Regions from separate parts of the Homo sapiens genome. Here region 2 is linked to region 1. Evidence: fine-mapped expression QTL. A gene starts in region 1. The other region holds a variant in brackets. All regions are shown on one strand. Distances are between the middles of the regions. Region 1 holds the start of PCNX1 (pecanex 1). Region 2 has its middle 23 kb from the start of PCNX1.

Region 1 (16,745 bases):
TCTAATCACCCCTCATAAGGAATTTGTTTTCATTTCCTAGTCATTCCACAGGCTGAGGGTCACTACATAATTCAGGTTGGGAGGCTGTCTCATCATCTTCTGGATCAAAAAGAATCCTGAAGTGGATGATGGGATTTTTCCCCCTTATTTATTTTCTGACAATCCTGAGAAGTAGAGGGAAGATGAGGATTCCATAAAGGAGACTCAAGTCTAGGGTAATTAGAGAGGAGGAAACCAGGAAGAAGGAGCAGTGACCTGGAAGCAAAGAGATTAAATAAGCCGGGGACTGAAAAATGCCTGCTGGATATGGCAACTAGGAAATCATTGATGATGTGGGCAGAAGCAGGGATGACAGCGAAGGTCAAGGCAGGTGAAAGACACTGTTTCACTCTTAAGAAAGTTGGCTGTGAGGGAGAGGAGGAAGTAGCCCTGAGGATAAGAGTGCCTGTTTCTGGGCTGGAGGAAAGTGCCAGCAGAAAGGAAAAGCTGGTGGTACCTGAGGGACCAAGGTTAACAAACCCAGTAGGGTTTAGGTGGTGGGGTGGAGAGCACAGGTGAAGCCATTTTCTTAGGCAGAACAACACCTTAAAAGGAAAAAAGAAAACAAAGGATGACTGTACATATGAATAAATTTATAAGTTGGGGGGGCAGGAAACTGAGGAATTACTGTCTGATACCCTCTATGTTTTCTGTGGGAGAGAGGGTGGTGTGGGTTGTATGAAAGACGTTGGTGAGATTTTAAAAGTCATTAATAAAGACACAAGAAGTGCTGAGTGAGAACTGGAGAACTGCCAGGAGGACTCCAGGTAACAGTTAGGGTCACAACCTGGAAAGTGCTAGCCTGCATGCTGGTGGCAGAGAAAGCAAATCCATCCAGTGCCATGGTTTTGGCCGATGGCAAGGTTGGGGAGAAAAGAGTGAAAAATCACTAGCTGTGGAATGATTGAATTGCAAAACTATGAGATCCACCATGGATGAGGAAATGAGGGAGGAGAAGAGGTGGTGGTGGTGATGGTAGGAAGTTCAGAGGAAAAAAAGAGGAAAGAAGTGTTTAAAAAGGAAAGGCCAAGGACAGTGCTTCTCAATACCAGTTTGCAGAAGAATAAAGAAGCTTGTTAAAAATGCACGTCTCCAGGCTCCATGTGAGAGATTTCAATTTAGCAAGTCTTGGGTACAAGATAGGAATCGGCTTTCTCCACCAGGTTATTACTTTTTAAAAATTGGTAACACAGGCCACGAGCAGTGGCTCAGGCCTGTAATCCCAGTACTTTGGGAGGCCAAGGTGGCCAGATCATTTGAGGTCAGGAGTTTGAGACCAGGCTGGCCAACATGGTGAAACCCTGATTCTACTAAAATTAGCTGGGTGTGGTGGTGCCTGCCTGTAACCCCAGCTACTCGAGAGGCTGAGGCACAAGAATGGCTTGAACCCAGGAGGCGGAGATTGAGGGGTCTGACACTGCACTCCAGCCTGGGTGACAGGGTGAGACTGTGTCTCAAAAGAAAAAAAAAAAAGGATAACATGTGCATAATGTAAAATTCATTAAGAGAAAAGATATACAATCAAAAGTAAGGTCTCTCACCCCTGTGGCAATTCCTGCTGCCATTTTCTCACATGTTCTGCTAGGGACATTCAGTACACAGATAATCACATAAAATACATTCTTTTCTCTTATGACAAGTGCTGTTATATACTTTTTTCCACATATATATATATATATATATATATATATTTTTTTTTTTTTTTTTTTTTTTTTGAGACAGGATCTCACTTTGTCACCCAGGCTTGGGTGCAGTGGCATGATCTCAGCTCACTGCAGTCTGGACCTCTTGGGCTCACATGATCCTTGCACCTCAGCCACCCAGGTAGCTGGGACTGCAGGCATGCACCATGACACCCAGCTAATTTTTTGTATTTTTTTTTTTTTGGTAGGGATGTGGTTTCACCATGTTGTCCAGGCTGGTCTTGAACTCCTGAGCTCAAGCGATCTGCCTGCCTCAGCCTCCCAGAGTGCTAGGATTACAGGCGTGAGCCACGGCACCCAGCCACTTCACCATATATTTTAAAGATCAATCCTTATTAGTTCATTAAAAGATACTTCAGTATTCTATTGGCTGCTTGGAATTCTATCTTTTAATATCAAAAGATAGAAAACAATAGATGTTTATACTAATTCTTTATTTCAGAGATACCCAACACTGAGGGAGTTTTTCAGTACCCTATGTATAAAGCACCATAACTTAGATTATATGTTTGTTTCTTTGTTTTTGGAGATATTGTCTCATTATGTTGCCTCGGCTGGTCTCACCTTCCTGGGCTCAAGTGATCATGCCGTCTCAACCTCCCAAGTAGCTGGAATATCAGCGTGCACCATGGCACCTGGCTCTAGGATTATGTTTTTTTTTTTTTTTTTTTTTGAGATGGAGTCTTGCTCTGTCACCCAGGCTGGAGTGCAGTGGCACGATCTCGGCTCACTGCAAGCTCCGCCTCCTGGGTTCATGCCATTCTCCTGCCTCAGTCTCCCGAGTAGCTGGGACTACAGGCATGTGCCACTATGCCCAGCTAATTTTTTGTATTTTTAATAGAGATGGGGTTTCACCGTGTTAGCCAGGATAGTCTCAATCTCCTGACCTCGTGATCCGCCCGTCTTGGCCTCCCAAAGTGCTGGGATTACAGGCGTGAGCCACCGCACCTGGCTGGGATTCTGTGTTTAATAGAAGATTTTGACTTGGGGTCATTCATGGACTATATACACATTGAGAAACACTTGTCATAGGACCTAAAAATATAATGAGTTTACAGGAAGGAAATGTTGAGAGAAACGGAGCAAGAAAACTGGAGGAACAGGGAGGTTTTACTTTGTGTCCTGATCTTTACTGATTTGAGAGATTTTATACTGATATGTATCACCCTCCTATGATGTATATACAAAACATATTATTTGTACATAATTAGAAAATACTTATGTATATTAACAGCCACTGAATCCTGGTGACAGTAGGTGAGGCAAAACAAAACAAAAACCCAGCTAAAAATCAAAAACCCCAAACAGACAAAAAAAAAAACTAATAAGAAATATGTTCCCATGTGCTGTCAAGGTTTCCATAAAGAAAGCAGTGAAAAATCTCCAAGGGAAAGATCTTTTTATGATGTCATTGGAATGTTATTTTTGTCATTAGAAAAAAGCTCCAGCCATCAAAATGAAATGCAATGAGTCTGCAACCTTGAATTCCCCAGGACTCTTCAATTCTGCTCGGATTCCTTGACTAGGGGCTAGGACTAATTTAGAAAGTAGCAGAAGGTGGATTAAAACACAGATTCATCTGATTCCAGCCCCCAGGCCCTTTCCATTATGAACACCACCTTCTCACCAAGGAATGTTCCTGGTGTTCCTTGCCAGAGGAGCCAGACATCTGGCCTCCAAAGGTGACAACTCTCACTTCTACTTAGCTACAGGGAGGCGCTCTGGATGACACTGGTAGCTACTAATACAGGGGGTGAACTCTTCAGAGAATCATCCAGCCACATCAGTTGGCCTAGTAGGTCCTGTTGGAATTATGCTACCCCAGCTGAAATAGAAAGATAAACAAGGCTGGGAGCACTGGCTCACGCCTATAATCCCACCACCTTGAGAGGCTGAGGCAGGCAGATCACTTGAGGTCAGGAGTTTGAGGCCACCCTGGCCAACATGGTGAAACCCCGTCTCCACCAAAAAATACAAAAATTAGCTGGGCGTAGTGGTGCTCTCCTGTAGTCCCAGCTACTCAGGAGTCTGAGACGTGAGAATCATTTGAACCCAGGAGGCGGAGGTTGCAGAGTTGAGATCGCGCCACTGCACTCCAGCCTAGGTGACGGAGTGAGAACCTGTCTCAAAAAAAAAAAAAAAAAGATAAACAAGCTCTTTCATATGATATAGTGAAGCACATTAGACATCAGACTGACATAGAAGAATCTTTTAATGTCAAAAGATGAAAAACAATTCATGTGTATATTATTTTTAATTTAGGGATTCACAATATCTGGGGAGTTTCGCAGTATCTTGCATGCTTTCCCTTTCCTTTCATTGCCCTGCTCCCAAAGTGTGGTAAGTTTAAGAAAAGTGAATTGGTTTTTTGAGACATGACAGAAGACACTCTCAGGATGACACAAAACCATAACAAGAATTACTAAAGTAGTTGGTGTCACTAAAAACATATTTTAAATTACTCATATGGAGTTGACATTTAAAAAAAGGAGATTGGGTTGAGATTTCCAAGAAGAATCATCTCCTAGTTAGTAAGAAAGTCTTTTATTTTCACTTGTTTAGCTTCATATCCAGATGATGGTATTTTATAATTATATTATGTGAGATTTGGGAAGTTTCCATTTGATATTTATTTTCCTGATGTGATCTAAAGCAGTACACAGCAAATGGCTAAAAGAGATCCACAGAAGAATTCTGGGGCACTTCTTTTTTTTCTTTTCTTTCCTTTTTTTTTTTTTTTTTTTTTGTGACAGGGTCTAAGTCTGTCACTGAAGCTGGAGTGTGCAATCACAGCTCACTGCATCCTTGACCTCCCAGGCTCAGGTGATCCTCCTGCTTTAGCATCCTGCGTAGCTGAGACCACAAGCTTGCGCCACCATGCCCAGCTAATTTTTGTATTTTTTGTAGAGATGGGGTTTCGCCATGTTGCCCAGGCTGGTCTCGTACTCCTGGGCTCAAGTGATCTTCTCAGCTAGGCTTTCCAAAGTGTTGGGATTATAGGTGTGAGTCACCACGCCCAGCCTTCTCTTCCAAATTCTCTTCACCTTCATTTCATATTATTTTTTCCTTCCTTGAACTGCTATTCTAAGCTGGTGAAATGCTTTGAAATGTTGAAGAATTACCAAATGAATGATGAAACAGATTAGGCCGGGCACGGTAGCTCACGCCTATAATCCTAGCACTTTGGGAGGCCGAGGCGGGTGGATCACCTGAGGTCAGAAGTTCAAGACCAGCCTAGTCAACATGGTGAAACCCTGTCTCTACTAAAAATACAAAAATTAGCTGGGCGTGGTGGCGCGTGCCTGTAATCCCAGCTATTCAGGAGGCTGAGGCAGGAGAATCGCTTGAACCCGGGAAGTGGAGGTTGCAGTGAGTCGAGATTGCGCCATTGCACTCCAGCCTGGGCAACAAGAGCAAGACTCCATCTCAAAAAAAAAAAAAAGAAAAGAAAAAAAGAAAAAACAGATTAAAATCTCTAATTGGAAAGCCATTGGTTTCTGTGCTTTGTTTAATCAATGTATATGAACTGAGTGTTAATTGATGCTAACAGCTTTCTCTGCTAGGCCCTGTGGAACATGCTGAGAAGTGCCTTGCCCTCAAGGAATGTACAGTTTAGATGGAGGGATTTGAAGTAGCACATAATTAAACGCTAAATGAGTGGAACATGTGAGTGCTCTAGGCTGTTCAAAAAATAGAAGAATGGGTTTGGAGTAGACGTAGTGGATTTTAGCAGGCAGGTGGAGGGGTAATGTTTTCTAAGTAAGGCAAATGGTGTCAGTAAAAGCACAGAGGCAGAAATTAATAAATGAGTGGGCTGATAAACATAAATAGTTATACTGATATTCACCAATAAAAAGGGTTCATGCTGGGGAGTAGCGGCAGTTAAGTTGGAGAAAATAGTGATTCAGGTTGCTGGGGTCTTTGCCCGGCTAAGGAGTATCCCTTTAGTCCTGAAGGGAATTAAAGGCTTTTAAGAAAAGTGGATTAGGGAGATTAATTTGTTAGTGGAAGGTAGAATGGTTTAGAAGAGGAGAAATTGGTGGTAATAGCAGACTGCTGGGTACGACTTGATGAGGGGATTCTCCAGAACGGTTGATCTGGCAACGTAAGGGAAGGGTTGAGCAGGAGAAAGCCTGTGGAGACTAGACACTGGGGAAGGATATATGAGGTTCCAAGTCTGAGTGAGCTGGAAAATGTTGGTTTCACGAAGACAAAGAAGAGGCGCAGGACTGGGGGAAGACATGGATACTTACTGCGTCTGGATCATTGGCAGGACATGTGGGCCATAATGTCTAAAACAGATAATTGCCACACAAAAATGGATCAGAGCTGCAGTTTGCATGACTCTGCTCCAAGGTGGGCTTGGGTGGGGTTATTAGATTTCGTACATTCAGCTTTGTCCTTTTCAGGCAGGAGACAGCATCTGCTGTCGAGTACTCTCAGTCCCCAGGAGGCCTATGAGCTAGTCAGAAAATATAATTTTAATAGGATTAGCTGAGAGATGAGCAAATGTCAAATGGTGATTTGGTAGTATGTCATGGCTGCTAACTTTGACATGCTAAGTGTAACATTATTAATGGCTTCTATGCATGGCTAAGAGGGTTAACACTTAGCAAAATTAGTTCCCTGGATTTTTGTCCTGCTGTTATATTTTATGGGCATGATGGAGTGTGCTACCTTGAGTAAACCATTTAACCTCTCTCTGCCTTAGCTTCTAGTTTATAAAATAGGAAGCTTGTTGTGGCAGGCAGTATTCACAAACATTTTGAGAGCTACAGAGAGCGCTGTAGGATTGTCTTTCTCCCCGCCCCCTCATTCCCCCCCATCCACCCCGTCCCAATGACTGAGTCAGTCATTTGGAAAGGTCAGCTTTTTCACTGGATACTCTCAATTGCTACTCCCTAAGTCAGTTAATTAGTATTTTTCTAAAATGCTCCTACCAGTCCAGAGCTGAAAGATGTAGTCTCTAACTGCTGTTTCTACTCTCTGGGCCTGCCAATCCTGCTAACCCCTTTTCACCCAATGGCTATTGCCATGTGACTCACACCTCAGGTTCTGGGATCAATCCCAGTCATTTTGGAGGGCAACTAGAGCTTTATATTAACACTCTGGGACTTCAACATAAGGCAACCATGCTCAGTGTGAAGTTTGGTCCTAGTTCTAGGTATTAGGCTCCTGCTTTGTTTGTAAGTCTCACTCTGTCCCCCCAGATCCAGCCTTTGAATATTTGTTTTGTCCTGCTGGGTCCTCAAACTTGGGCCTCCAGTGAGTATCTCAGTAGCTCAAGGATCTGAGTTCTATTTGTTTTCATCAATTCCCTGTAGAAACGAAAGGGCAGACCTAGAAAACCCCAGCACTGAAGCTGGGGCCTTGCTATAAGCAACACACTTTCTCAAGGCTTGCCGTGATTTCCCAATTTTTGCCCACTCCTGGATTTTCCAAGGCTATGTGTTCCAGCTGTCCATTGGCTTACAACACCCACATTCTCTGTTTAACAGGCCTGATGCCGGCTGCCTTCCTGGCCTGCTGCCGGTTCCATATCCTCCAGATACTGCATTCTGGCTGAACGTTTATCACGCCAGCTGGGTTGGCCTCCGATTCCACGGATGTATCTGGTTCTAGTTTCCATTTCTCCCCATCCACCTCACCCTCATTACAGTTAATCCTTTTATATTAAACCATAGCGGATCTTTGCTGTTGTGGAAACTGATGTGGTATTGGAATTTTATCCTTGTTTACATCTTTCTTTGTGTTGGAAAGGTTGGGATTACTTCCAAAACCTTCCCAGAGAGCTTTCCTGTCTCCTTTAGGGGAAACAAATGAAAACTTGACAATAGCTGGTATCTATGACACCAGCTTCAAGGCCACTATTTTAATTGTAAAATTGCATTATTTAATCATAATTTTGCTTTTAGATATACAAATATATTTTAAAGTATATTTTGTCCAGTGTTTACTCACAGCTCTCAATTTCAAGGTATCTTACTGGAACTCAGTGGCTTTGTGGTTATAAGGACATAAACAAATCAAGGCTAGGGATGGTGTGGTGTTCTACAGTGGTAAGCTACATTAGAATCCTCCGGAGGACTTGTTAAAACAGATTGCTGGGTACCACCCCACAGAGTGTCTATAGAATGATGCCCTAAGAATTTGCACTTTGACGAAAACTGGTCATGTATTTAAGCTGGTCACAGATAACCAGAAGGTGCTGAACTGTTCTTAATCAATTCAAACTTTTACCTGAAATGGATAATAAGGTGGAGAGCCTTGAGAAATGAACTTCCAAAGTTCAGTGCATGCAGTTAGCATGACTGCTGGTTTTAGAGTTCTCAACCACTTATTGCTTATGAGCAATAAGTGGCCATAAGCATTTGGCCAATCACTTACTTGAGTTTACAGGTTTTCTCATCCATAAAATAACAATAGCTGCTATGCTGCCCTCAAAGGGTTGTCCTGAGGTCTGAATGGAATGGGTGTGATAGTGTCTGAGCAACTATAAAGTGGTATGGCACTGGGAGGTATTGTAACGGTTTTTCATTACTCTTCTTAAAATATCACCAGTTTCCTTTGGCTCTTGTTTCCCTCATTAATTATAGCAACTGTAATCTGGGAATACACAGTACTTTTATTGCCATAAAAGCCAAACTTCAATAAACTCAAATTTCAAACTTTTCTATAAAATTTTATTCAGTGAGATCAGACACGCCTTATAAACATTACACAGAGCCAAGAATGATTCCGTTTTTACAGCTATAAAAAGAGATCTACAAGACCCTATTGTAATTTGGGGTGGCGTCACGGTTAATCTTTTTCAACCCTGTTTAGATTGGCCCATTAATAAAAATGGCTGCTAGTTACAGCACATTTAAAAATACAATCACCGCGTACAAATGGTAACCTGTCCACTCCATACTTCCATGTCCTGTGCCGCTTCTATTAACTTGTCTTTGGAAGTAGTAAATTCTCCCAGTCTGGACGTGGCTATTTTTTCTCACACACGGGCCAACACAGTTCTTGCTCAACTTGGGTGCGTTTATGACTTTTCAACAGTGTCATCAGCCGTACCTAACTCTTCCAGGCCTTCAGTATCTCAGGTGTTAGCTTCAGTTGTTCCTAGGTCTTTCACAAATATCATAAATGACAGGCAGGACGCTTTTCTGGAGTCAAGATCTGTTAGTTTCGGAGTCAGAAAGACCCCGTTTAGAGACTCGTAGGCGAACTTGCCAGGGGGCCTACCAGGGGCAGAATGGGGTCCTCCGGACCAGCCAGCCGCGTCTCAGCCACCTCCGCAGCCCCCGGGGCCCTGAACCCCGGCCGCGTTGACGCGCGCTTCTCCCGGACGTCGGCAGGAGGCGCCCGCGGCGGACCAGGCGCGGCGCGCACCGTAGCCGGCCCAGGGGGCGGAGGGAGCGGAGAGGAGGAGCTGGAGGGGGCGCGGCTTCCTCTCGGTCGCTCCCTGGCGCCGGGCCTCTTTCTCTGCCTGGCCCAGGGCTGGCGGCCGGCGGGGGTCGCGGCGGCGGCAGTGGGGGCGCTGGCGGGCCGCGGGTGGCGGGGGCCGGGCCGCGGCTCCGGGTGTTAGGAGACAAGATGGCGGCGGCTCTCAGAAGGCCGGTCTCCTCCTCTCCGCCGTCCTCCGCCCCGCCGCTCGCCGCCTCCTCCTCTCGGGTCTCCTCCTCCTCGTTTGCTGCCTCCTCCTCCTCCTGCAGCAGCACCAGCGACCGCCGAAGCGCCGGCTCGCTCACCCGGAGCTCCGGAGGTGGATAGACGGGGCAGCTGCAGGCTCCGGCGACCGAGGCCGAGCTGGGGCCGGGGCGGGGACGGCGGCGGCGGCGGCGGCGACGGCGGCGGCGCCGGGTGGGGATGGGGTCGCAGACGCTGCAGATCCTCCGACAGGGGGTGTGGGCCGCGCTCAGCGGGGGCTGGTACTACGACCCGCACCAGGCCACCTTCGTGAACGCGCTGCACCTCTACCTGTGGCTCTTTCTGCTGGGCCTGCCCTTCACCCTCTACATGGTGAGTGTGGGGGCGGGGAGCGGGTGGCTCCTTCCCCGCGAGCCGGTGGGGAGATGCTGGGGTCGCGCCCTCTTCCTCTTCCACGGGGTCTCGTCCCCCGGGGGCCGCCACCCTCTCGGTGTGAGGCTCCCCGCCCCCACTGCGTGCTCCCACTCCTCTCTTCGGGGCTTTCCTGGTTTCGGAGGTGACACGAGCAACGAGCCCACGGCAACCCGCGCCGGCCGCCCCCGCCCGCTCACTGGGAAGCGGCAGCGTCCTAGGCCCCTTCTCGGGGTTCCCTCCTGCGGCCACTCGGCTAGGCCGTCCCCGCCGGGGCCCCCCGCCCGTGGGGCTGTGTGGCAGGCGCCGAGCGCTCTGCGGCTTTAGGGGACGCCGCATCCATCCTTGGCACGCTGGGTTCCTCGGGCGCCCGGCATCCGGCACTGCCCGCCCCCGCCGCGGCCCTCGTCCGGGGCTCCCGGGAGAGGCCGCCCGCCGCCTCGCCGCTAATCCGCGTGCGGAGCCCCGGGAGCGCGGGGGACCGTGCGGCTCTGCTCCGAGTGTGTGTGGGGGTCGTCCGGGCTCGTCCTCCAGGGGTCCTGGGTGGTGGCTGAAAACCCGGCTCGGAACCCTCCTGCCTCTAAAAAACCGTTGTTGTGCTTCGCAGCGGTTCTTCTCTGTTCGGCCCCGTGGCCGGTGGCCGTGGTGCTTCCTGGCCTCCCTGGGGGGAGGGAGCGGGGAGATAACGGGGAATCTGGCTGGCATTTCAGCAGATTTGTTTGGCTTGGTTCAAGGCCTTTGGCGGATAGGAGTAGGGAGAGAGAGTACTGCCTGTTGCTGAATTCGGTGCGATCAGCTTCTCTGAATCATCTGTGTTTTTAAAGCAACATTGAAAGTTGTTAAGCGCAGTTTCTAAAGCACAGGTTAGGGTGGGGCGTTAGGGAAACTCGTGTGGACAGAGATGTTACTTAAGGCTTCATATAAAATTTTAAAGTAGTCAGAGGGGAGGAAAGGATCTGAACTTTTTATTTTAGGAGAATTCCTTTGAATGTATTTCTGCTAACTTTGAGGTTCTTTGTGGAGCTAGAGACAGGGTGCTGAGTTAGAAAATCCCGGAGGACCACTATGAGAAGTGCAAAAGGTGAGGACACCCAATTCTTCCCTAAGTGAAGTTCAGTTTCACTAATTGGCAGGAAAAGTGTCTGCTTGAGGGAAGATGTGCACATTCTCAAGCAGATTCACATTTTTCGTTGAAATTGTTTTGAAGGGACTTATTGTTTGAGGTTAAAAAAAAAAGCCATTAAGAAATGCTGATGGCTTGTGGCTTGTTTTATTAGGGGGACTTGTTCAGTCTTGTTGCATTCTGAAAATTTATCGTGAAGTATTATAATTTTCAATTAATTTTGGCCTAGGGAGTTCTATTTGCACTACTATACCTTCCAGGAATATGACATCATTAATGAACGGGTTAATTACTTTGGGTTTAAGAATCCTCAGGCTGTCACAAAATTTTCAAAGCAAATTTCTTCTATGTCCAGAAGAATTGTAGATTTAAAACTGAAAATGATTTTTGAGAGGTAAGGATTAGTTGCTGGGTCCAGTGTAAGATTTCTTTTTTAACACTTGTAGTAAACTGTGTGGTCATGGTTAAGTCTCTTTGTGTAGTTAGCAAATGTTACTGAAAGAATATTAGAGCAAATGGAAACCAGGACATTGAGTTTACTTCCTTCATTTTGGGAGTTCAGTTAAACTGAATTCTCACATATTTGAGTGTCTACCATGTACTAGACACTTTCTGAGATTGCTTCTGACTTCCTTATCTCAATTAATGGCAGTCCCACTCTTCCCAAACCAGAAGGTGCTGAGCTGTTCTTAATCAGTTCAGACCTTTACCTGAAATGGATAATAAGATGGAGAGCCTTGAGAAATGAACTTCCAAAGTTCAGTACATGCGGTTAGCATGACTGCTGGTTTTAGAGTTCTCAGCCACTTATTGCTTATGAGCAATAGGGGCTGTATCTTCAAAACCTAACTAGACGACGACTCCTCCCTCCTCCTCCTCCTCCTCCTCCTCCTCCTCCCCCTCCTCCTCCTCCTCCTCCTCCTCCTCCTCCCCCTCCTCCTCCCCCTCCTCCTCCTCCCCCTCCTCCTCCTCCCCCTCCCCCTCCTCCCCCTCCTCCTCCTCCTCCTCCTCCTCCTCCTCCTCCTCCTCCTCCTCCTCCTCGTCCTCCTCCTCCTCCTCCTCCTCTCACCAGCACCATCATCATCACGGCCATCAGGCCATCATCATTCCCTTGGTTCGTCACCATTCTCTCTCCTGGATTATTGCAGTACTTTAATGAGGTTCAATGCTTTTGTTCTTTATTCTCCACACAGACGCCTCTGTGATTCTTTCAGATCATGTCATTCTTCTGCTCTCAGGGCCTGCCCTCTCCTGTGTCTCTCTTGTCTCAACCACACACACATTTGCCGCCTTACTCTTCTTGCCAAGAAGTATGTTCCTGCTTCAGCGCCTTTGTGCTTGCTTTTCCCTCTGTCTGGATGACTCCTCTTTTCCAGATACCTGTGTGGCTGCTCCACTTTTTGCAGGTTCTCATATACGTGAGGCTTTCTCTGATAGCCTATGTGAAATAGCAACTTCCCCAGCTCTCACAAGACTCCATAGCCCACCTTTTAAAATAGTATGGTATTTATTCCTAACTGATATCTATTTATTTGTTTTTATGTCTTTCTTATCTTATTAGAATATAAGCTCTGAGAGGGCAGGAACTTAGTTTCGTTCACTGCTGTATTTTTAGGACCTAGATTAGTGTAAAGCACATGTAGTACTCCGATGAATGATTGAGAAGTGCACAAGACACAGCTTCTGCTTTCAAGGAACTTAAAATCTAGCCTGGGGGTAATGAGTTGTTACTGTTAGAACTGCTAGGAAAGGGTAAGTAAAGAGGGACCCTGATCTTATAGTCAGGGGATGAACCCTAGACCAGGGGTGGTCAGGACAGAGAATTTGTAAACATTTTAGGAAACATACTAGTAAAAGGTAGATAGTTTGAAGTATACACCAAAAATAAAGCAAAATCCAACATTTTGTGTTAAAATCTCAGACAGCCATAGGTTATTATTTGCATGCTCTTACAATAATAACTGTAAGTGATAATGACTGTTTTAAAAGTACATGTATAGGTTCTTTAACCCCGTGACCTCATGAGGTTTTGCTGTTAGTAGGCAAGTTGTGAGCTGGGATTTACACAGAGCTTTCTGAAGGCAAAGTCACTGTACAGGCTGCCTTTTATTTATTCCCCCCCAAAAAGTGCCTAAATCTGTGGAGAGATCGTACATTAAGTTAGGAAACAGTCTTAGGACTTTATAGGATTCAAACACTTTTGGTGTTTATTTAGGAGCATTTGTGGATACTTTGAAAGGTGGACTCTATATACATCAACTAGTTAAAAATCTTTTAAGTAGTGAAAATGAAGAAAAAATTTTTGTTTCTTAATTCTGATTGTCCTGTCTGTTTCCTTTAAGGTACTCATTCTTTTTTATCTAGTTACAGTGATTTTTGTACATGTCACAGATGATGAGATTTTTGGGGGTGAGTGGCATTTTTGTATGGTGGAAAGCAGATTGGAATTAGTGTCTTGATTTTTGAATCTTGGCTTTGTTATTGATTGTGTGTCCTGTGGGCAAGACTCCACCTTTCTGAACCTTGATTTACTCATTTGTGAGATATTTCATGGGTGTTTTTCAAGAAAATATTTATGAAATAGAAGAAATTATTTACCTTCAGAATGGCCTTCAGTAAATGTCATTTGAAAAAATGGCTAATTGGAAGTGTTTCCTCTATAATGCTGTATGACTGTAGGAGACTAAATAGCTCTGGATTATTAAGTCAAATCATTTTCATAACATATTGCTCAATATATTGTTTTCCTCTGTAAAGCAATATATCCCTAGGTGATGAAATAGAACATTAAAATTTATGGCTGGGCGCGGTGGCTCACGCACTTTGGGAGGCCGAGGCAGGCAGATCATCACGAGGTCAGGAGATCCAGACCATCCTGGCTAACACGGTGAAACCCCGTCTCTACTAAAAAAACAAAAAATTAGCCGGGCATGGTGGCGGGCGCCTGTAGTCCCAGCTACTCGGGAGGCTGAGGCAGGAGACTGTTGTGAACCTGGGAGGCAGAGCTTGCAGTGAGCCAAGATTGTGCCACTGCACTCCAGCCTGGGCGACAGAGCGAGACTCTGTCTCAAAAAAAAAAAGAAAAAAGAAAAAAAAGAACGTTAAAATTTATTACGTAAGTGGTTCCCAGACTCCTCCAGTTGACATCAGAATCACTTGACAATGTTAATGATGTGCAAGCCCTTTCTTATTCGGTAGATCTGGAGTGTGGCCTATTGATTTGTATTTTATAAACATTCTAGGTAAGTTTAAATAACTTGATCAATATTCCTAACTACCAGCCCCTGACTGACATCCAGCTGCTACTCAACGTACCTCTTGGCTGTCTCACAGGCATCCCAAAAGTATCATGCCCAAAAGCTTCTGAATTCCCCCCTAAACAACACTGCCACAAAATGTTTTTCCTCACTCTGTCATGTTAGTTAATGGCACTGTCTGTATCTAGTTGCTTATCCCCCACCCCTTGCTTTTGAGCAAATCTTACCACTTTCTGCTCAGAGGAAAAGACATAAATCTGTGTCATTCTTTTAAATATTCTTTAAAGATTTTCTTTGGCACTTAGAAAAAAATCCAGAATCTTTATTAAGCCACCAGAGCTTATTCTGCCTTTGTTTACAGTTTGTGCAGTTTTCCCACTGTGCTGTAGTCACACTGGCCTTTCTGTTACTTTAGCCCACTGAGCCTTTTCCTCCTGTGAGACCTTTGCACGTGTTGTGCCTTCTGAAAGGATACTCTTCCTTCTTGCTCTTTGCAAGGCTGGCTGCTACTTAATCTTTAGGGCTGGACTTCAGTATTATCCCCTCACAGAGGCTGAGCCTGATAACCATAAATAGGTTCCCTCTCTTTTTTTTCATCATTCCATTCCATAACTTTCTTCCATAGCACTTAACACAAACATATATTTTTTGTTTGTTTACTTGTTTGTCCTCTCGATCATCCTCCACTTCCATACCTTGTAAGTTCCATGAGGGCAGGGGCCAGGTCTGATTTACTCATCAGTGTTTATCAAGTGTCTGCATGACTGCCTGGCTCATATTAGGATCTGAAGAAGTATTTGTTGAATGAATTTTTTATTATACATGTGAAGCTTTTTTAGACTTGTTAACTGATGTAGAATAGTTGGAGGTGGAGGGAGGATTGTGGTAGGCTGTATCATATGGTGGAGCTGCTTACTTAGGGGTTAGGTTCGGTGTCAGTCTCTACAAGACAAAAATCAAATATAAAATTACTGAAAAATCAAATACAAAATGACCCTTGAAAAACACTTAAGTCATTGAAAGTGCAGTACGTATGGCTTTTTGTGCATACAGCTGTGTGGTTATACATACATACATGATATATACAGTAATATATACCACATAAATCTGTGGAGAGATTATATTCAGACTCTAAATCATTAACAAAATTTATAAAGGTTTCAACATTTTCTTCCTAGTTGTCTTCATTGTTTTCTGTAACTGATCTTTGTCATCTTTAGAATGATATATCTTTTATTAGTGAGGATTACGCTAAAGCTCTCAGGTCATTTTCTTTCCCCCAATTTAAAAGTATTTAAAGATCATTTTAAACAAGATTTAGTTAGGGTGACTAAAACAGGGATTTTCATATTTTAAAATTTATATTTCTCTAAAAGTTTAGATCAAGCTAGAAAAGTTACTGTGCTATAAATTAGCAATTTATATTGCTATTGCATATTGTACATATGATTTTTAAGTATTATTTTCTGCATCCTTTAGGGGAAGGTTAATGACTAGTGGATGGCCTGTTTAGATCTATTAGCCTGTGCCCTTTACCAGTATTTTCAATATTTAGGATCAAAGTGAGTCTAATTATTTCCATAACTGGTCATGGCACAGATATAACTCTTATGTATTATATTACCTATAATAAATTAAGGGTACACTGTCCAAAGATGGTTTACACAGAAAACCATCTACCACATGTTCTCACTTATAAGTGGGAGTTAAACATTTGGATACCCACAGATACAAAGAAGGGAACAATAAATACTGGGGATTCCAAAAGCGGGTAGGGGGCGAGGGTTGAAAAGCTATACATTGGCTACTGTGTTCACTACTTGGGTGACAGGATCATTAGAAGCCAAACCTCAGCATCACTTAATATGCCTATGTGACAAACCTGCACATGTACCTTGCTGAATCTAAAGGAAAAGAAAATTAGACCTCCAAGAAAGCAGCCATATTTGTCAATTTGTAGAAAAGTGTATTAATTTACAAAAAAAGCAGTTGATTTATAAAATGTTCTGTCTTTTGTGACGTAAAGGTGGAGTGTTTTCTCCCACTTGAAAATTACTCCAAATCATAAAATCATTTGGTGATTGGAAAACTAGGAAAGTTTCTATTTTTTTTCTAGCCTTTGAATACACAGATTCAGTCAGGTAATTTGCTTTCTCTAGCTGACTTTACTGAGAGTTAAATCTTTCAACATTTTATTAAAGAATTTTCAAACATATAGGAAAGTTGAGAAAATTGTACCCACCACCTGGATTCTGTGTTTTTAAATATTGTGTCTCTATCTGTTTTATTCCTCTATCTGTCCACCCTTTTTTAGGGAGATGCATGTAAATTAAGTTACACTTCTATACAAATCACCCCTAAACTCTTCAGCAGGTGCATTGTCAGGTAGGTTCTAAAGGCACAATCTTCAGTGAACCATTCGATGAGTTTTGATAAATGCACACGTTTGCGTAGTGTAGACTTGGCATGTTGTAGAATATCAGCGTCACTCCAGATAGTTTCTGCTTGACCTTCTGAGTCAGTCCTCTCATCCTTGTTCTGACTTTTTTTCATTATAAATTAGGTTATCCT
Region 2 (16,745 bases), 22 kb before region 1:
CCAGGGGCTTAGCCCTCTGTCTCTTTGTGTTGCACAGAGGTAGACACCCTTACAAATAGAGATTTCTTTCACAGATGTAATTTTCTTTAATAAAAGCGTTTCAAAATAGCCAGCTAAATGCCAGAAAGGTATATTGCAAAGACTGATTTAGTTCAATAGGTAGTCTTTTTAACTTAGCTTCTGTTTCTTTTCTCTTTTTTTGAGACAGAGTCTTGCTCTGTTGCCAGGCTGGAGTGCAGTGGTGCGATCTCGGCTCAGTGCAACCTCTGCCTCCTGGGTTCAAGCAATTTCCCTGCCTCAGCCTCCCAAGTAGCTGGGACTACAGGCACATGCCACCATGCCGGGCAAATTTTTTTGTATTTTAGTAGAGACAGAGTTTCACCATGTTGGCCAGAATGGTCTCCATCTCCTGACCTCGTGATTTGCCCACCTCGGCCTCCCAAAGTGCTGGGATTACAGGCATGAGCCACGGCGCCTGGCCTAGCTTCTGTTTCTTAGCTAAATTACTGAGTTTAAAGTGGAGCTCACACCAGTTAGAATGGCAATCATTAAAAAGTCAGGAAACAACAGGTGCTGGAGAGGATGTGGAGAAATAGGAACACTTTTACACTGTTGGTGGGACTGTAAACTAGTTCAACCATTGTGGAAGACAGTGTGGCGATTCCTCAAGGATCTAGAACTAGAAATACCATTTGACCCAGCCATCCCATTACTGGGTATATACCCAAAGGATTATAAATCATGCTGCTATAAAGACACATACACACGTATGTTTATTGCAGCACTATTTACAATAGCAAAGACTTGGAACCAATCCAAATGTCCATCAATGATAGACTGGATTAAGAAAATGTGGCACATGTACACCATGGAATACTATGCAGCCATAAAAAAGGATGAGTTCATGTCCTTTGTAGGGACATGGATGAAGCTGGAAACCATCATTCTCAGCAAACTATCGCAAGGACAAAAAAAACAAACACCACATGTTCTCACTCATAGGTGGGAATTGAACAATGAGAACACTTGGACACAGGAAGGGGAACATCACACACCGGGGCCTGTTGTGGCGTGGGGGTAGGGGGGAGGGATAGCATTAGGAGATATACCTAATGTAAATGACAAGTTAATGGGTGCAGCACACCAACATGGCACATGTATACATATGTAACAAACCTGCACATTGTGCACATGTACCCTAGAACTTAAAGTATAATAATAATAATAAATAAAAATAAAAAATAAATAAATAAATATAGTGGAGCCCATTAATGAAGAGGACAGAGAAAGCGTTCTCTATGCCTGGACTCAGCATGGATAGCTTTGAAAAAGAGAAACAAGCCTACTTTACCTGAGGGCCTACCTTTTATAAGCACTTTATTCGGCTTTCTTTCCACCTTGGGGCAGGATAGTAACTAAGCCAAAATGTTAGCAGATTCTATTTCCCTTATCAATTAGTCATTTAAAATCTTTATTTGTCTTTTGTAAAGAGCCTTTAAAAGAGGCAATAAGGCCGGCGCGGTGGCTCACGCCTGTAATCCCAGCACTTTGGGAGGCCGAGGCGGGCAGATCACGAGGTCAGGAGATCAAGACCATTCTGGCTAACACGGTGAAGAAACCCCGTCTCTACCAAAAATACAAAAAATTAGCCGGGCGTGGTGGCAGGCGCCTGTAGTCCCAGCTACTCGGGAGGCTGAGGCAGGAGAATGGCGTGAACCCGGGAGGCGGAGCTTGCAGTGAGCCGAGATGGCGCCACTGCGCTCCGGCCTGGGCAACAGAGGGAGACTCTGTCTCAAAAAAAATAAAAAAAATAAAAAAATTTTAAAAAAAGAGGCAATACAAATTTTGAAATTTTTTTTAGAAGCTTCTGCACATCAATAGGCATCCCTGGTGAACCTAATTCAGGAGCCCCCATTTTTAAATGCACTTCTTAAAGTACAATGTTGTTCATTTGAATGTTCCACCATAATTTTAAATCATCTTTAGTAAGATTTCTCCATTTTTGTAAGCATTTGCTGCTTCCGGTGCCTAATACTTATATACTATACATAAAGGCAGGCATACTGGGAAAGTGGAGGACTCAGTTCTTCAAAAATTAAGGATCTCATTTTTATGTTGATTCCTGGCTTTGGCTCTAAGATCCTCTTGGCCAAGTCAGCCAATGATTTTTCCCTACCCAAGTGTGTAAGAAAAAGGAACAAAGGAGATAGAACACAAAATCTCTGCAAATTCCCAAAAGCTGGAGTTCGCACCCCCTGCACTAATTGCCATTTACCACCCGTTTCCGCCTGACCCAGCGAGACAGCTGAGGCCTCTAACTTGATCCAATCCACTTAATTATCGAATCTGATTCGATCCTGGACCGAGTCCAGTTTTTGTTGTGACTTCTGGACTGAGTCCAGTTTTTGTTGTGACTTCTGAACCGAATCCAGTTAAAAAATTTGCTCAAACTCAGATAGCTCAAAACACAAATTTGTGGCACTTCAGAATCTAAGAGCGAATTTGTCCAGGATCCCCAGTTGCTGCAAGAGAGCAGTGGACACAGTGGGCCCAGCAGGCACCTTGCTTGGTCGCTCCATCCTCCTGGGGGTCATTAGAAGCTCTACTTTGTGGGCATTTTTGGGGTTTTTTTGTTTGTTTATTTCTTGTTTTGAGACAGGGTCTCATTCTGTTGCCCAGGCTGGAGTGCAGTGGTGTAATCACGGCTCACTATAGCCTCGAACTCCTGGGCTCAGGTGATCCTCCCACCTCAGCCTCCCTAGTAGCTAGGACTACAGACACGTGCTCCCACACCCAGCTAATTTTCTACTTTGGATCCTGCTTCTGATGCCATTGGTTAAAAGAAAAGCTTTAGGCAAATTAAATTTAACACAGTTTAATTGAGTAAAGAAAGATTCTTGAATCCAACAGTCCCCAAAACACAAACAGACTCAGAGTGACTCCAGGGCTGCCACATTTATGCCACATTTATTAGGTAACATTTATGGACAGAAAAAGGAAATTGACCTGTAGAAAGCATAAGGGAGGTACAGAAACGGCTGGATTGGCTACAGCTGGGGCCTTTGCCTTATTTGAACCTGGTTTGAACAGTTGGCTGCCTGTGGTTAACTGAAATTTGGCTGCTGTGATTGGCTGAGACTCAGTTACCAGTCTGTTTATGCATCAAATTAGGTTACAGTTCACTGTGTATGGAGAAACCTTTAGGCCAGACTTAAAATATATACAGAGGCAGCTTTAGGCCAAACTTCATTTAACAGCATCTAGATAATTTTCTTCAAAAATTTTTGAATGATCCATGGCGTAGCCTCTTTCTTTTGTTCAATGTATCTATAGAGGGAAATGTTTTCACAACTCCATCATTATACTCTTAGTTTCCCCGAATAGTTTAACTGGTGGAAAGGGCAGCAATACTCAAAGCCATTAAACCAAGCAGAACTTGCACTATCAATTTCAGTCTGTTCTGAAGGTATTCATATATGGCTAAGGCTTTTTCTGCAAATGTAGAAAAGCTTACCCTGATATTAAGTTGCTAGGAAAATCATGTATGCATCAGTGTGTCTTCCGTGTTACATGGATATCACTCATATCAAAGTAACATGCATTGCTGCAAAAAGAATTGTAACTGTTATGTACTGAATTGTGTCCCCCCAAATTCATACATTGAAACCCAAGCCCACAATGCGATAGTATTTGGAGATGGGGCCTCTGGGAAGGAATTAGGTTTAGATGAGGTTACCAGATAGGTTCTTGTACGAGGCCATTCTTGTGTGGCCATAAAGAAATACATGAAGTTGTGGATAATTTATAAAGAAAAGAGGGGTATTTGGCTTATTTGGCTTACCATTCCGCAGGCTGTATAGGAAGCATGGAGCTGGCATTTGCTTCTGGTGAGGGCCTCAGGAAGTTAAAATCATGGCAGAAAGGAAGAGGAGCCGGCACATCACATGGTGGGAGTGGGAGCAAGAGAGAGGAGGACAGTGCCATACACTTTCACTTATTATTATTGTTATTATTATCATTTTGAGATGGAGTCTCGCTCTGTCACCCAGGCTGGAGTACAGTGGCGCGATCTCAGCTCACTGCAAGCTCTGCCTCCCCGGTTCAAGTGATTCTCCTGTCTCAGCCTCCTGAGTAGCTGGGACTACAGGCACCCGCCACCATCCCTGGCTAATTTTTGTATTTTTAGTAGAGACGGGGTTTCATCATATTGGCCAGGCTGGTCTTGAACTCCTGACCTTGTGATCTGCCTGCCTCGGCCTCCCAAAGTGCTGGGATTATAGGTGTGAGCCACCGCACCTAGCCTCCATCCACTTTTAAATGACCAGATATCACATGAACTCAGAGCAAGAGCTTACTTATCATCAAGGGGATGGTGCTAAGCCATTCATGAGGGATCCACCCCCATGATCCAATCACCTCCCACCAGGCCCCACATCCAACACTGAGAATCACATTTCAACAAGAGATTGGGATGGCACAAACATCCAAACCATATTAGTCCTCATAATGGGATTAGTACCCTTATGAGAGGAGATAGCAGACAGCTTGCAGTCTCTCTCTCTCTCTCTCTCTCTCTCTCTCCCTCTCTCTCTCTCTCTCTCTCTCTCTCTCTCTCTCCACCATGTGAGGACACAGAGGGAAGGCAGCCATCTACAAGCCAAGGAGAGAGTCCTTACAGGAACCTGACCGTGCTGGGACCTTGATACTCATACTTCCAGCCTCCAGACATGTCAGAAAATAAATTTTTGTTGTTTAAGCCACCCAATCCATAACATAGACTGGGTATTATGTCACCCAGTGCCATAACATGTTATGCTATGGCAGCCTAAGCTGACTTAGATAGTAACCATCATTATGTGACATAAAAGGAGCATAGTAAAGAGAGCACATAATTCTAGAAGGGGTGGAGGTTGGAGAGAAATTAAGTTGAGAAGAGGAGAACAAGATGTCAGGAAAGTCTTCCCATATGAGATACTTCTAGCAATTGAGTCTAGTCTAGAGGAACAGGCAGTTATTCTCTAAATGGTCTCTAAGAAGAGCTGGGGGCCTTAAAAACAAGGGACGTAGCAGTAATCTTTTTTATAGGCTGTGAATTGCTGTGGAACCTATAGCTTCAAACCTATTTGTTTTCCATGAACTCTATAATGATGTCATGGTCTATGCCTTCTTCATGTACAAACATCATACAGTTAACCCACCACCATGATAGCATGTACTTTCTGTTGTCGTGTTGTTTCCTAGTAAGGTGATTGATTTGCATTGCTTCAACCGGGCTCCTCTGATTGATCATTTTCTAAACAATGGATGCATTTACAGATGGTTGCCAGGTTCAGCAGAGGAGGCTGTAGCCATCAAATAGATAAAGTAGGCTCACCACATTCTGGAATTGAAACCGTGATCTTGGTTACATCAGAAGGTGCTCTAACCAATTGAACAAACCAGGCCTCGATGAAGCAACTGAGAGCTGGGGGATTCTTATGCAGAACAGAGCATTCATACTTCCGCTTCCATATGTACCACATATGTGTTCCTCTCAACTGGTTTTGTACATTTCCATTGCCTTAAATGTATTCACATAGCACTCTTTAAATACTCGAAGTATAATGAAGAAAAGAGAAGGAACTGAAATGGTTCCATTCCATTTCTCACTAGGAAGTTGATTCTGTGCACTCTATTTCTGACTATTTTCTATCAGCCTATCACTGTGGGATGTAGGAGGGAGGAACAGGACACAAAATGTGGCATAATTAAAAAAAGATGAAGAAGAAAATTAAAATCATTAACCATTAGTAATCATTTTTAATGTGCATCATTTTTAAAATTCGAGAATAACCCAAGGAGGTAGGCATAATGTTTAGACATGATTTACCAGTGAAAAGAAGCTTAGAGAAATGAAGTAACGGCTGGAAAGTCACAGCTAGAACTCAAAGTGAGAATTCCCACCCAAGAAATCTAACTCCAGATTCTACACTCCTAATCTCCGCTATGTTGCTTTCCTGAAATGAGGAAAGAATAAGAAAGGAGAAAATTAGTGACAGGAAAGAGAGAGCTGAATAAGAGGGGACAAAGAAAGGAGGAAGGAAATCAAGCAGTTTCTACACTCTGGAAAATAACGGAGCAGAATTAACAGAAGAGAACTACTTTCCTCAATGCTCATTCTACTGTTAAAAAAAAAATAAGCCAGGCAGTGCAGCACACGCCTATAATCCCAGTGACTAAGGAGGCTGATGTAGGAGGATTGCTTGAGCCCAGGAGTTTGAAGCTAACCTGGGCAACAGAGCAAGACCTTGTCTCTAAAAAAAATTTTTTTTAAGTAGCTGCATTGTCTTGTTTTTCTAACTTTGTACAGTGCTTAGAGTAACACTATCTAAACAGCATGTGTTCCATAAACCCTGTTGACTAACCGCTGGATTTGCACAAGAAACACC[G/A]GAAGACTCTTAGGCAAGAGATATATTGTAAGATCCGTGACAATGAGATCTCTTGGATGACATGTTTTTCATTGTTTACTGCGTGTCTAAAATGAGAAGGTCCTAAGAGCCAACCTTTCATTGGAGTGGCCCCCATAAAACTGTCTGCTGTGTAAGGGGTGTTGGAGTGACTCTCCATCACAGGTTCTACTGCAGCTCTAGGGTGGGTCCTGAGTGATGTGAACCCCACCCCCATCCCCGTTGCTAGTGAATGGGTCTGGGGTAGGCAGGCCAAGGCCAATTGGGACCAATGAGTCATAAAGAGTTTTCTAAACACTTCCGGAAAATATGCTTTCTTACCCTTAAGAAAGAGTCACAGGAAGTTAGTAGGAGGTGAAAAGGGAAGCAATTAACCCAGCAACTACTGGAAGCCTTCCAAAACCCAGGGATCTTTCCCCAGAATGAAGTCAGCATTGGGGATAGCACAGCAGAGAGATGCAAAGAGCCACTGGATCCACCAGTCCTGAATCCTACCCAGCCTTTGACATCCTGCATTGGAGCCAATACATTTCTTTATGATAAAAGCTAGTTTGAGGTTGAGTCAGGATTTCTGTCCCATATTTTAAAGTATCCTACTGATGCAGCCTGGTAAACATAAAACATGGTAAACACATGTGGCCTGATTTTATTGGCAGCATGGTTAACTGGTTCAAGCTATGGTTCAAGCTATTCTTTCCCTTCTGTGATTATGACCATACGCTCTCATGAAAGGTGAAGCCTTTCTCCTGCCATGGCTACCTGGCTAAAAAAGCTCAGCCAGAGTCTCAATTCCTATAACCTCCTTCCCATCCATCCATTCATCCATCCATCTATCCATCCATCCATCCATCCATCCATCCATCCATCCAGCTGATGGATTAATAAATTTATATCAAGCACTTACTCTGAGCAAGGCATTTTGCTAGGCACTGTAAGGCCATCAAAAAGGAAAAAATAGGCCGGGCGCGGTGGCTCACGCTTATAATCCCACCACTTTGGGAGGCCGAGGTGGGTGGATCACCTGAGGTCAGGAGCTCGAGACAAGCCTGACCAATATGGTGAAACCCCGTCTCTACTAAAAATACAAAAATTAGCTGGGCTTGGTGCCGTGCACCTGTAGTCCCAGCTATTCGGGAGGCTGGGGCAGGAGAATTGCTTGAACCCAGGAGGCAGTGAGCCGAGATTGTGCCACTGCACTCCAGCCTGGCGACAGAGTGACACTCTGTCTCAAAAAAGAAAAAAGAAAAAAAAAATCAGATGCTCTCTGTTCTCAGAGACCTTATAGTGTAAAAGGGGAGAAAAAATATGTATACAATTAACTACGGCAAAATGTAGAAAACTGTTAGGTGTCACTAGATACAGTGCCACAGTAGATCAATGAAAGGAAGAGACCATTTCCAGCTGGGAAGGTTAGGGCCATTTTTTGTAAAGAAGATGGATTTTATGCTAGATCTTGGATGATCCTGAACTAGCACAGAGGAAATGAGCATTCCTGGCAGAGAAGAGCAGGAGAAAAGGCCGAGCAGAAAATCACAGAGAAAGGATGGGAAACAATTGGCTGGAAAATAAGGTTGGAACTTGAAAGGGTCAGTGAGGCCAGATAGTAATAGGATATAATTCCAGGTCGAGATCTTAGTCTGTGGGCAGTAGGTTGGGTTTTGAGTCAGGTATGAGCTGAGCAATAGAATGTGGTTTTGAAAGAAAGGAAGAGTATTCAAGACAGAGCACAGCAGGAGCAGATAGAAGAACCCAGGTGGCTGGTTTCTCTGACACAGGCAGGAAACATTCTTCTGCAATGGTGAGCCAGGCTGGATGATAGGGGAGACTCTACTTATGAGGCAGGAGGGTCTAGAATGAGGGACAGTTACCCAGAGTCTGGGAGCATCAAGCCACTCCTTCATGAGTCAGGCCCAGCAAGCTTGCTTATGAGCAGTGAGATTAGAAAACCCACGGGCAGAACCATGTGGACCGACAAGAAATAGGTGAGCGCCATATGTTTCCAGGGGCCAGACAGGTGAGCATCTGAGCAAAGACAGAAGCCAAAGCGGTGCAAACCTGGAAGGACAGGAGCAAGGCAGCTCAGGAGCTGACTGGGCAGTAGTATCGAAGGCCCAGATACAGTGTCCAGGCAAAGGGCCAAGAGCCCAGTCAAGGATGACAGCTGTATTGCGGAGATAAAGCGAAGAAAGCACAGGTTTCAGAGTCAAACAGACTCAGGTTTGAATCCAAGACTATCTTATCTGCTGTGTAAACTTGGGCAAGCCACTTAACCTCTCTGAGGCTTCTGTTTCCTTGGCTAAAAAGGAACATAATAATGTCTACCTCAAAGAGTTGTTATAAGGAGTATAAATAATATATGAAGAGTGCCTGGCACTTGGAGCACTCAATAAATGAGAGCTATTGTTATTATCAATATCACCCTCATTATTTATATTGAACTATAGAGATTGCTGTGGCTCAGGCTGAGAAATAAAGCAAGTGAGAGGAGTCTTTGCCAAGAACAGAGAAACCACCAGGAGGGGGAACGGGCCTCTGCAGAATTGATCACAAAAGCTCTCTGGCTTATGTATTACTCATTTGTCACTGTTGATTTATACATTCATTCTTATACTCAGTAATGCCAACACCATTGTCACCATTGCCATCATTCCCTCCAACAAAAATAAGAAGAACCTTAGATTTCTGTTAAAACAGTTCAACAGGCTGTGTTTTGCCCCTGGCACATCTCTTCATCTTTTCTGTGGATTGAGCTGCCATTGGTATTCAGGGATACCACCTGCCCCGAGTTGCTGACAACCATCTCCATGGTTTCTGGCCAGATCTCATTAGCTAAGTGAGGTCAAGCCCAGTGAGGTTAAATACCGACAAGGGAGAGGGTCGGGGGATACACAGATGGTTACAGGCATTGGGATGGAATGGCATGGCTGACCCAGCCTTGTGTTAGGTAGAAAACCAAGGTCACAACCTTTTGCAGTCTCTGAGGAGCTGCGTGACAACATATTTAATCAGAGGATGCCAGCCACAGTGATCCTGCAAGTTTCCAACTGATACAGTTTACCTGCTCCCTCTACATTCAATTGATGCTATTACTGCCCAATCCAATAATAAGCAACAATTTATTAAGCCCTTACTGTTTGCCAGGCTAACGACAGGCCAAAATGCAGGGCTAAAGCACTTTACATACTGTCCCATTTAATCCTCACCACAACTCTATAAAGTCAGTACTATTACCTGCTCCATTTTACCGATTAATAGAAGTTCAGAGAGGTTAAGTAACTTGTCTAAGTCCGCATAGCTAGTAAAACTGTAGAGCCAGCTTGGGAACATGGGTTTTGCTGATTCCAGATCTCCAGCTCTGCATTAAAATGCTAACTGGTGCTTCTCACACTTTAATGTGTATATAAGTCACCAGGCGATTTGTTAAAATGAAGGTTTTGATTCAGTAGATCCAGATGGGACCTGAGATGCTGCATTTCTTAGGCCACATGTATGCTGTCGGGCCGTGGGTTATAATTTGAATCACAAGAGACTTGTCTGATAGATTTGGTTCACAGTGGTTGGCAGGTTTCTCTTTGAAGGAGGTTGGGTTTTGGTCTTAGGGTTAGGCTAAGAGGCTTTAAAACCATTCAGGAAGTGTGGATTTTAGTTCTATGCTGCATACTAAATCATCATAAATTTATCCCCTTAAAACAACTCCCCATTCATTACTTTACAGGTTTTCCCCCAGAACTGGGAAGGGTGTGACTCCACTGATCTCCTCACAGGGCTAAATCAAGATGTCAGCTGGGCAGTGTTCTTATCTGGAGCTCAAGGGCCTTGTGGAAGCTCATTCTGGTTGTCACAGATTCAGTTTCTTGCGGTTGGGGGACTGAGGTCCCTGTTTCCTGGCTGGCTGTCAGCTGGGGGCCACTCTCAGTTCCTAGAAACTGCCGCATTTCTTACCACTTGGTCCTTTTATCTTCATAGTCAGCAATAGAGAATCTCCCCTTTGTTGAATTCTTCTCATGCTTCAAACCTCTTTGATTTTTTTCTGTCTTTGACCTCCAGACTCAGAGTTAAAGGGCTCGTGCTATTAGATCAAGCCCACCCAGACAATCTCCCTATCTTGGGACCTTAATTACATCTGCAAAATCCCTTCACAGCAGAATCTAGGTTGCTGTTTGATTGAGTAAGTGGGAGAAGGCTCACAGATCCCAGAGGCAGGAAACCTTAGGGGCTTAGAATTCTGCCTACCACAAAGTGTTTTGGTTTTCCTGGATGAGCTGCATTGTTGATTGATCAATGTTTTTAGAGTCATCGAAATTGAGACTATATAAGCTTTCTCATTTCTGCTTTCATTTCTACTCTCTTGCTGTAAGCCTCTCCTTTGGTATGAAATTACCAACAATGATTTCAAAATAAAAATGGACTGTCAACTTCCAGCAAATTGAGCTTAGCCCTTTTTCTCATTTATTGTATAAACTGAAAGTGTAAAACAGGAATTGATACATAGATCATTTGGGGTTTTTCACTGACTCATTAGCAATGTCCAGGAATAAGTCTCCAGATGCAGAGATGTTTATAGAAGGCAGTACTTCTTACTCAAGGAACTCTAAGTGCTCACGGATGATGTGAGCCAACAGACAGTGCCTGCACTTTGAAGAAGGAGGGTTTGTGATATCTTGACGTCAAAGATCTGACTGAAATCTTTGGAATCAAGCCCATCTTTTCTGATTTCTAGCCTATTTTCCTTCCAATGGCACTGTCCTAAGGTTGTACAGCTTAGAAAATGTTAACCCAGTATTGTTTTCTTTACTTGCATGTGAGAGAAGAGAAGTCAAAGTCAAAAGCAGGCAGCTGGAAACCTCCAGGGGAAGGGATTCCCAGGGGTCCTTTATATTCCTTTCTCCCCAAGCAAAGCAGAGAGAGAAGCAGCACACATACCCTGTGGATTCTGGGTTTGGAAAGCATAGTTGTGTTGTTCATCTGGGCTGCTATAACAAAATACTATACACTGAATGGCTCATAAACCACAGAAATGTATTTCTCACAGTTCTGGTGGCTTGGAAGTCCAAAATCAAGGTGCCAGCAGATTTTGTGTCTGGTGAGAGCCTGTTACCTGGTTCATAGATGGCTGTCTTCACATGGCAGAAGGGACAAAGGACCTCTCTGGGATCTCTTTTAAAAGGGTGCTAATCCCATACATGAGGGCTACATCTCATCGCCTCCCAAAAGTCTCACCTCCAAATACCATCATGAGGAGAATTAGGTTTCAACATATAAATCTGGGGAGGACAGACATTCAGTCTATTGCAGGGGCCAACAACAGCCCCTCATCAAGAGGTGGCGCTACGGAGGACAATATAGCTGGCCCTCCATATCCACAGGTTCTGTATATACAGACTCAACCAACTGAGGGTGAAAAACACTAAAAAAATAATAATAATACACAATAAAAATAAAAATAATACAGTGTAACACATATTTACATAGCATTTACATTGTATTAGATATTATAAGTAATCTAAAGATGATTTAAACTATGGGAGGATGTGCATAGGTTACATACAAGTACTACATCATTTTATATTAGGGACTTAAGCATCCCCCAGATTTTGGTATCCTGGAGTCCTGGAAGCAATTTCTCCCCACCCCCCACAACTAGGGATGAAGGATGACTGTACTAATGATTCTGTTTCTTTGCAATTCTCCTTAGTACCTCCAAAGCTCTAGCAAGATCATCACACAGGAAACAACATCATTTTCTTAGCCCACTCACAGCACAGAGAACAATGAAGTAATGGCTGTAGACAAATCCAAGTGTCTGTTGCAACCTCAGGGTGAGGAGAGAAAATTGGTAGTGGTGTTGCTTCCTTTAGAGCTTAAAAGGCACAGCTGAGGTGACTACCCTTCACTCCATTTTTGCTAGCATATAATAAGCTCTGCTTTGCATTTTTGCTCCCATGGCATCATTTTTGAAATATGAATCATAAAAGCAGTGCATTTCTGCTATGCCTGCTGAGACTTGCTTTATCACCCTCCTATTTCAGCGTTAATAAAATGATGCTGTCATTCCAGCTGGGAGGTATTTTGATTTTTCCAGACAGAGAGCTGGCTGATCACATTGTGAGTGTGTGTGTGTGTGCATACTTGTGTGCATGTGCCTCCCTTCTGGGGCTGAGAAGGAAATTGTCTTACCTTAATAATAGATAAATGTATTTTGATGGTAGCTGATTACTAAGTTGAGACTTTCTGTAAAATCTTCTAGCATCATGGTAATTTACTAACAGACAAAGAAAATCCCTCAATAAAGGCATCATTAGCAAAAATCCTGTGCCACTAGCTTCTAAATAGATGCGTAAAGGTAGGGTAGTAGAGACCAGGAGTAAAATAAGAAGGTTGGAGTAAATGACCTCTAAGGGCCACTTTTATTTAAAGAAAATTCCAAGCATAACATTGGAAGACCTAGAGATGATGCTAAATGCCTGAAAAGGGAGAATATAAATTTAGGAAGGTAGTAAAAATTTTCTCAATGATAAAGGAACTTATGACTATGGGTATTTGCACGTGTATGTGTCTGCTGTGTCTTTAATATTGAGGGGAATTCTTTTTCTTAAATCTGAGAATGATGGCTTAGTTGATGGCAAAATGGAAAGGATGCGGGGACCAGCCAGGAGCCCAGGAGCAAGGCAGGCGTTTCCAGAAGATCTTGGCAGAAAGAGGCAGACCAAAGAAGCAGACTGGCCAGCCAGTGCCAGGTAGGGTGTGAGATTAACTACAGGTGGGTGGAGCACAGCCCACGCACTACAGAGGTCTGGGCAGTCATGAAATCCAAAGGGGCTGCTCAGGATAGTGGGTAGCAGGGACTGCACCTTCGAGGGTGAGGTTCAGAGGCAGGATTTGGGTTTCTTTTTTTTTTTTAAAGGATTAGCAAGAGAAAGCGCACAATCTAGAACAAATGAGATATCAACAAGAGTCACTGAAAAGGGACCTACGGACAGGCTGTTAGGGACTTGATCTTCAGGAATAAGACTGGCTACTAGAATCAAAGAAAAGGTTTGTGTAGGTCCAGTAGCAAGGCTGATTTGATGCTATCATGCTGAGAAACTCATACTCTGCTTTTCATTTTTGCGTTTTTAGTACCTCTAAAGCTTTTTACATTCTCCCCAACTATAGAGATACTCTAGGGCCTAAGTTGATCCTAGCCGGGCTAATCACCAAATCACAGAATTTGGCAGATGATTTCAAGAAGTTTAAAATGAGTCCCGTCCTCAAAGTGTTTATAATCTATTTGAGAAGAAAAGGTCAGCACACATGAGACAGAAATATGTCTACTGTGTCCATTTACTGTGTTATGTACAAGTCATAGGTATTAAGAAAAATAAAAATTAGTAAGTGCTGGAGAGGTCAAGGAAGGCTTCACCGAAGAGGGATGATTTGAGGGTTTAAATTTTTTCTGAGACAGGGTTTCACTCCATCGCCCAAGCTGTAATGCAGTGGTGTAATCACGGTTCACTGCAGCCTTGACCTCTCAAGATCAGTTGATCCTCCCGCCTCAGCCTCCTGGGTAGCCCCAGCTGGGATTGCAGATGCACACCACCATGCCCAGTTCATTTTTTATATTTTTTGTAGAGACAGGGTTTTGCCATGTTGCCCAGGCTGGTCTCGAACTCCTGAGCCCAAGGGATCTGCCCACCTGAACCTCTCAAAATGTTGGGATTACAGGCATTAGCCGCTGCACCTGGCCTGGCTTGAAGTTTTTTAAGTGAAGAAAAGCAGAATTGGGGCCCTGGGGGTGGGAGATGTTCATGGGGGTGGAGAGAAGAGAGTCAGAAATATCCTGAGATATTTTTCTCATCATTTTTACCCCAACAGGAATAGTTGAGCCTCTCAGTTCTGCAGGGGAAGCTGGTAGTGGAGCCACTAGTGAGCACTTATAAAGTAGATGATAAAGAAAGGAAGTGGAGTTTGCTTGATAAGAGAAGAACATGATTAGAATGGTTGTGTTGGTAGCTCCTGGACTCTTTCTCTGCGGCTATTTCAGTCCCCTAGCTAATCTGGCCCTGACTTATAGTAGTGCCAACTTCAAGCCTTCAGGGCATTTTATACAGCTTCCTGTCTATGCTTCCCACCCTTATCACTCCCTCCCCTTGTTTTCCTTCCATTTTTTTAAATGACTATTATTGAATCAAATTTTCCTATTAATTAAAACCCTTGGGATCTTGGAACCTTAGTCAACTTTCCCCTCGTATATGACATAATGATGTACATTGTGTTTCAATGGCTCTGGACACCATCGCTGATAGAATAGGTCACCTGTTTAGCGTAGTCAGGATGAATGTTGCCATCAAGATGACTGCTCTATATTGAAGAGTCTGAGTCAACTCAGCATATCCAACTATCTTCGTGACTTTTTTTTTTAAAAGAGTTTTAATGTATTCCTTTAGTACTGGCAGTTGCTTTTCCCAGTCTGCTGCTGCTGAAGAAATTCCTAATGGTTAATGTCAGATCCCAGGATACTGGCCTATAATGCTGAGAAAGGAAATAGTGTCAGAGAATCTTGGTTTTTAGCTGCTGTTTTACTCTGCAGGAGCAGAGAGAAATAGGAGCAGGGGTAATTTCTTTCCTTTAGCAGCTGCTGAAGTAGACCTGATATTTGGGTTGGAAAAGTATATCAACTCACCTCAATTTAGAGAAATTATTTTTTAACCTTAAGAAATTAACGTATGTATTGCATCACTGAGGAGGCTCTTCTGTGGGCTTGTAGCAGGAAAAATCTAGACACTCTATGGGGCTATGCTACAGACATGGTGGCCCATGCAAGGAACTGGCAGCTGTGGGAGACAATGACAATGATTGACACTTGCCTGGCAATTTACAGCATACTGTTTCAAACCTGATTTAATTCTCTCAGTAAGCCTGAGATAAAGGGGTCATTTTATGCATTCCACAGATGAGGAAATAGACTTGCTTTCTTAAGCAACAGGTAGTGAGTTACAATCCAGAAATGAACACAGTCTCTCTGAATCCCAATCCTACACCCTTCCCAGTAAACAGGTTCTATTCCACTGTATGGCATTCAGTTGTGAGACGTTTCACACAAGAATTCGTCATTAACAAAAGAATTATATTTGATGGTGATAATTTAGAATCATAAGTCAAGAGTCTCTCATTTTCTTGTATTGAAGTGCATTTTTTTTTTTTTTTGAGATGGAGTCTTGCTCTGTTGCCCAGGCTGGAGTGCAGTGGCACGATCTCGGCTCACTGCAACCTCCACCTCCCAGGTTCAAGTGATACTTTTGCCTCAGCTCCCCCTCAGAACTGGTAGCTGGGATTACAGGCATGCACCACCAAGCCTGGCTGATTTTTGTATGTTCAGTAGAGATGGGGATTTGCCATGTTGGCCAGGCTGGTCTTGAACTCCTGATCTCAGGGGATCCACCTGCCTCGGCCTCCGAAAGTGCTTAGATTACAGGTGAGAGCCACCGCGCCTGGCCTGAAGTGCATTTTTTGAGCAGAAAGAATAGGTCAAATTGCAGCAAGCTATCTGGGGAATCACACACATCAGTTATATCTGTGCAGTAGCACTAAAAGACCATGGCTGGTGGAGATAATAATAGTTTTTGTGATTATAAGTTATTGCCTTGCTTTCCTCCCTGGAAAATACTGGGTTTCACCAAAGTTTGAATCTGAGTTTTCCTATGACAGTGTGCCTGCTTGTGTGAATATCATCCATTTTGAGTATCTCCAAAAGACATCAGTGGAGAATGTGGCTCATCGTGCAGCCTTCCTGATAGATCTGACTATGGTAGTGCACATACTACATTTAAGCCCTGCTGTGTATCAAAGCTGGGTACTCAACCCTAACACATACCCTTCACTTATAATGAAACTTCTAATGGACTCTTGCTTATAGGGAAAGCTTGTATAACCAACTCTCAATTTTTATGTGTATGTAAGGTCAAAACTGCAGTGTTCTGTTAATGGTGATACCACTACAATGTCTGTAGATATAGGCAATAGAAAACTGAAGCACTCTTATGACACAAATACAGTGTAAACATTCTTGAAAAACTGGGAATTTGCTGCAGCATCACTCCTAGCCACTCCCCAGAAATTTGGAGGTTGGACAACCTAGTGTGATAGTAGAAACACTTGAAATGTTTGGGAGTCATTTTTACACAAACTTGTGCTGTTGCTTTTTTTTAAGGTTAAAAAAGGCATGTTTTGATGCAAGAACACAGGATATGAGTTCGCACTAAATAAAGATCTACATCTACACAATAGGTTTCAATGACGGGGAGGAGAAGAGATTTTTAT

Evidence for each region. PIP is the estimated chance that this variant, and not a neighbour inherited with it, causes the effect.
Region 2: its variant is fine-mapped to the expression of PCNX1 in whole blood (INTERVAL, PIP above 0.99).

Annotation. Positions count from the first base shown.
Region 1 is chr14:70,898,249-70,914,993 of GRCh38, forward strand. It overlaps PCNX1 (pecanex 1), which reads left to right and starts at 9,211. Exons shown (of 36, transcript NM_014982.3): 1 at 9,211-9,755. The coding sequence starts at 9,603. RefSeq lists silencers at 9,114-9,303, 9,524-9,863, 10,024-10,363.
Region 2 is chr14:70,876,549-70,893,293 of GRCh38, forward strand. No RefSeq gene overlaps it. Among named protein-coding and RNA genes, the nearest start is that of PCNX1, 23 kb to the right of the region's middle. RefSeq lists an enhancer at 10,756-11,065. The variant G/A (reference allele first, on the strand shown) is at 6,429.